Regions from separate parts of the Homo sapiens genome. Here region 1 is linked to region 2. The links come from fine-mapping of genetic effects on gene expression. A gene starts in region 2. The other region holds a variant in brackets. All regions are shown on one strand. Distances are from middle to middle.

Evidence for each region. PIP is the estimated chance that this variant, and not a neighbour inherited with it, causes the effect.
Region 1: its variant is the best candidate, but not a certain one, in a credible set for the expression of ST3GAL6-AS1 in lymphoblastoid cells (CAP, PIP 0.73).

Annotation. Positions count from the first base shown.
Region 1 is chr3:98,710,891-98,713,906 of GRCh38, forward strand. No RefSeq gene overlaps it. Among named protein-coding and RNA genes, the nearest start is that of ST3GAL6-AS1, 20 kb to the right of the region's middle. The variant T/TA (reference allele first, on the strand shown) is at 1,759.
Region 2 is chr3:98,731,271-98,733,770 of GRCh38, forward strand. ST3GAL6-AS1 (ST3GAL6 antisense RNA 1) reads right to left here and starts at 1,381. Exons shown (of 5, transcript NR_046683.1): 1 at 1,156-1,381. It also overlaps a transcript of ST3GAL6 not described here. RefSeq lists enhancers at 847-1,595, 1,596-2,343.

The DNA of each region.
Region 1 (3,016 bases), 20 kb before region 2:
CTGACTGAGTAAATGTGGAGTGAAGCCCAGTAATCTGTTTTTTAACAAATGTCTCTGTTGAAGCAAGAGTTTAAATCTTTACAATGCTACTCTATAATTTTGTATATTCTGCTTGGCACAGCCCTTTCTCAATTCTTAGTTCTAATTAATCACTCCTTCCACTGGATTCCTGTTCTCATGCCTGGTGCAGCAGGAACCGCATTGTGTTAAAATCAGCTCTCTTTTTCCTTTTTTTTTTTTTTTTAGACAGAGTCTCTCTGTTGCCCAGGCTGGAGTGCAGTGGCACGATCTCTGCCCACTGCAATCCCTGCCTCCAGGTTCAAGTGATTCTCGTGCCTCAGCCTCCCAAAAAGCTGGAACTACAGGCGTCTGCCACCATGCCCGGCTAATTTTTGTATTTTTAGCAGAGACAGGGTTTCACCATGTTGGTCAGGCTGGTGTCGAACACTTGACCTCAAGCAATCCACCCACCTCAGCCTCCTAAAGTGTTGGGATTAAAGGTGTGAGCCACCATGCGCGGCCAAAATGAGCTCTTTTTATGTCTGTCTCCCTGACTAGATGGGGAGCTACTTGATGTCCAGGATCCTGTTTCTTCTTTCTTTCTTTTTCCTGGGTTGCTCATTCCATTAATCTTTACGTAGCTGGGTTCTCCTCATCATTTAGACCTCAACTTGAAAGTTCCCTCCTCAGAGAAGTCTGTTCTGATAACGCAATCAAGAAGCCCTCCAGTCATTCTCTGTCATATCCCATTTCCTCATCTAGTGTAAAGCACAGCAGATGCTCAACTGCAACTGGATTACCCAAATGCAGCTTAAATACATTCTTAGGACACCAAAAACAGAGGCATCAAAAGAACTTTTTTTAAGTTAAAAAGTGGTTATTTTTAAACTACAGAAAAAGTCATTTGAAAATTATCAGGATCTTGCTGGTCTCCCACTTACATTATGGACTAGTATTATTTTTATATAGAATTACATATTGAGTATGGACTCTATAACATTTTTGAACTTTGAGTCTCTAAAGGTTTTAATCTGGCACTCTGCATAGTACCTGCTTATCAATATCTTTGTTTTCCAAAACATATTGAAAATATGTTGGATGGGTATCATTATCCAGTCTTACCTCGAAGAGGTTAAAAAACAGAAGCACAAAAAAGAACAGAAAAAACATTGAACTGATTTTTTATTTTATTTTTTGAGATGGAGTCTTGCTCTGTCTCCTAGGCTGGAGTGCAGTAGGGCAATCTCAGCTCACCGCAAGCTCCACCTCCCAGGTTCACACCATTCTCCTGCCTCAGCCTCCCCAACAGCTGGGACTACAGGCACACGCTGCCACGCCTGGCTAATTTTTTGTATTTTTAGTAGAGATGGGGTTTCACCGTGTTAGCCAGGATGGTCTTGATCTCCTGACCTTGTGATCCGCCAGCCTTGGCCTTCCAAAGTGCTGGGATTACAGGCGTGAGCCACCGCACCCGTCCCGAACTGATTTTTTGGAATCCTTCCTGAATTTGAGCATTTTACTGGGAATAGAATATTAGACTAATAAATTGAGCATTGAACAATGCCCAAAGAGTATGTTCTTTCCTTGCAAAAAGCCTCTTGAGCATTAAAGAATCTACTCTCCAGAGGTTTAATTTGGGCAAGACCCTCACCACGATGAGTTCACTTCATTTTTCTTACTCATGAAATATGGGAACCAAACTAGATAACCTGTAAGATGTGGACCACCTAAGCATTAGACAATTCTACCTTGAGACGT[T/TA]AAAAAAAAAAAAAGTGCGTGACTCAAGATTTTTTACCAGAAACTCTTCTTCCCCTGATTAAGGTGACTCATCATTCTATCAAAGAAAGAAATGATCTGGCATTATTTATACTCCTCAGGGTCCCACTTGTTATTCTGCTGGGGCTTGAGTTTGTCTCATATGAGACTAGTCTTTGATTTTCTGCATTCTTTAGGATAAATTTAGATGGCACTGGGCTCCATATCCACAGCCGCCAGCATGGTCCAAGCCATTGTCATCTCTTGCCTCAGGTCCTGCAGTAGTCTCCAGACTGGCTTTTCTGCTTCCACTCTTGCATCATTGTAATTCTTTCTCCAAGTAGACCTCAGAGTGATTTTTTAAAAAATATGTCAGATTCAATCACTCCTTGCGTAAAATATTTTATTTACTTCCTTTCGCATTTAGAATCAAATCCCAATTCCTTACCCTTGCCTTCGAGGCCCTGCGTGATGAACGATCTAGCTCCTACCTCCTCTTTGGCTTCCTTGCCCATTACGCTCCCCTCGTATGATATGCTCCAGCCAGACCGATCTGCTGGTTCTTCCCTGCACATGCCAGGCTCATTCATACTATTATAAATAAAGTTTCAGTGCCGCAAAAGAAATAGCGCTCGAATATAAAATTTTCTTTTTAATTCTCAGCAAGACAACGTACTTCTATAGAAGGGTGCACCCTTACAGATGGAGCAATCGTGAGCGCACACTTGGACAAGGGAGGGGAAGGGGTTCTTATCCCTGAGGCACGTGGTCCCTGCTGCTGTATGGTTCCCCTATTGGCTTGGGTTAGACTGCACAGGCTAAACTAATTCCAATTGGCTAATTTAAAGAGAGTGACAGGGTGAGTGGTTTGGCGGGAAAAATGGTTACAGGGCAGAGCAGGAAATCAGAGTAAGCCAGGGTGGAGAATGAGCAGGTAATCAGAATGAGTCAGGGTGGAGCAGGTAATGGAAAAAGGTTGCTTTACGAGGAAGTTAAGTTTAACAGTAGAAGGCAAAGAACTGAACATACTGACATATTGATTCTTTGAAGAGAAATTTAGAACTCATACCTAACAGTACTTGGAGAGTGTGCATGAGCCATTCCCTCCGCCTGAATTGCTCTGCATAGCAGGTCCAGCTGTTGAATTTATGTTTTAAAATGTGCTCAGGATTTGTTTAAATCAGGTATAGTAAGGCAGCAGTCATGGAAATGACTGTCATGAAGAAAGAAGTTTTTACACTTGCAGGTTCCTAGAAACACG
Region 2 (2,500 bases):
AAGCGATTCTTCTGCCCCAGCTTCCTGAGTAGCTGAGATTACAGGCGCGCACCACCATGCCCGGCTAATTTTTGTATTTTTAGGAGAGACGGGGCTTCACCACGTTGGTCAGGCTGATCTGGAACTCCGGACCTCGTGATCCGCCCGCCTCGGCCTTCGAAAGTGCTGGGATTACAGGTGTGAGCCACGGCGCCCGGCCATTTTTTTTTTAAAGTAAGGTTGGGAAAACAACAAATGATACCTCCTAGGGCTGTTATTACAATTAAGACAAATACCAGAGCACTTTGGCAGGTGGAGGCGAGCGGATCATTTGAGGTCAGGAGTTCGAAACCAGCCTGGCCAACATAATGAAACCTCATCTCTACTAAAAATACAAAAATTAGCTGGGAGTGGTAATCCCAGCCTGTAATCCCAGCTACTCGGGAGGCTGAGGCAGGAGAGTCGCTTGAGCCTGGGAGGCAGAGGTTGCAGTGAGCCAAGATCATGCCCCTGTACCCCAGCCTGGGTGACAAAGCAAGATTCTGTCTCAAAAAAAAAAAAAAAAAAAAGGACAAATACCAGAAAGCCCATCACAGATGAAGGACTTTGTTCCAGTTCGTGACACATTGCCAACTTTGAATTACATCCAAGTCCGTGGGTCTTCTCTCTGGGGTCAATTGATGGCACGTGATTACACTGCTCAGGGCCCAAAGGTTGGAGCTATGACTTGAATGTTTCTAGACAAGGAATTATTTGACAAACACACTTTAAAAAGTATTCAGAGCCATCCAAGTAAGAGGACATTAATAACGTAGGGTTTTGCCTATGGAGAGAAAAGAAAACGCAAACAGCACGTTCCACCTTCGTTCTCCCTAAAGTAATTTATCTCCTTCAAAAGATAAAAAGTACGAACACATTTGCCCTTGAAGGGCAGAGCCCCGGAATTCAGGAGCTCTCTGAACACTCCTCCCCTTCTGATAGGGACCAAACCTTCTGCTGAGCCTTGTGTCACAGTCAGTCCGCGGCGCCACAAGCCTCAGTGTTTACTTCTGCCGCCTGCCAGCCGGGCGGGGAAGGGGAGTACCCGGCCACCCCTCACTTTAGCTCCTGCAGCTTTCCAAACAAACCAGGGCGGGATGGGAGTGTCTTCTTGGCTGTGGAAATCGATCCTCCTACCTTGTCCTGAAGCCACCCGCCGCCTTTCCTCGTCCCTCCCTTCGCGGTGATTTTCCGGTCCCGGCGCCCGGCGAGGGCGCGCGGCTGGTGTCCGCCCCGCCCGAAAGGTAGGGGTTCGGCTGTGCTCCCGCCTGGTCCCCAACGCCTCACCCTCCGGGAGACCCGCAGCCTCCCACCACTTTGCACCTTCCTCCTCGAATTTGGGGGCGGCCACCGTGCAACTGGCGCCAGCCGCGGAGCAGGAGGAGCTTCCCGCGACTCCGGAGGCGCTCGGCGCAGTCGCCCGGGATTGGGGCTGGCGGGAGCCTGAGACTCCGGGCAGGGCTGCTCCCTCCTCTGCTCCCCCGCCAGATCCGCGGGGAAGGAATCGTGCCCGCGCCGCCCCTGGCCCGCGCCACCTTCCTTTGGTTTCTGCCGGCCTCGGGCTTCTGCGGCCCGATGTGGCAGGCGCCGCGAGAGAGGCAGCAGCCGGCTGGAGCAGCGGCCCCTCAGGTCTCGGAGCCCGGTGCGCCTCTGCGGTCGTCGCTCCTGGGCCTCGGCGGGTCACTCTTGCCGGCCGGCTTCGCTGCGGGTTTGCACTGCCCGGGTGAGGGAAATTGGGGGTGCGGGAAGACCGGTCTGGGCCGGGGTCCGGGCGGCCTGGGGTCTGTGCTGCCCCGACCCTCCGGCTTTGCAGCCTCTGAGGCTCAGGGTTGGGGGTGGGGACACGGAGCGCTGTTTGCCCCTCCACATATCCTGCCAGCACCAAGGAGGTGGCGTGCGGAGGCGTAAAGGGACCATGGGCGCTGGGACCCGCGAGCCAGCCGGCGTGCGCCGCAGCCACCGCCGAGAGGGCACCCGGGGATCCTGGAGCCCCAGTGAAGGGCGGGAGGGACGCGCAGCCTCGCGGGTAAGCCCAGGAGCCGTGGGGGCCGAGAGAATCTGCTCTGGGACCCTCTTTTGTCGAATCGCCGGCGAGGTTGTGCAATTGGGAAGCCAAGAGGAGTGTCCAGCTCCTCGTTCACTATTGTTTTCTTGTAAAAGGGTCTGTACGCGAGGAGGGTTGAGGGGTCTGGAAGGTTCTGGTCTCTTACCGTATAAAGTTTTTCGAGAAACCCTTTTTCCCTCCACAATGGAACTAGACCTAACAAAACAAGCTCCGAGGCAGTTTAGGAGAAAGGAGGACGGTGAGTAAATTGCAGTGTTTGGGCTGCTGTTAATTTTCAAGATAAGGGAGAAGCAACTTGTCATTTTGAGGCCGCCGGCTCCGGAGATCCCGGCAATCTCAAGCCTCTTTCTTGTGTGCTGTTATTTTGGCTTAAAAGAAAACCTATAAAAAGCGACGCCCAGAAACCAAAAACAAACC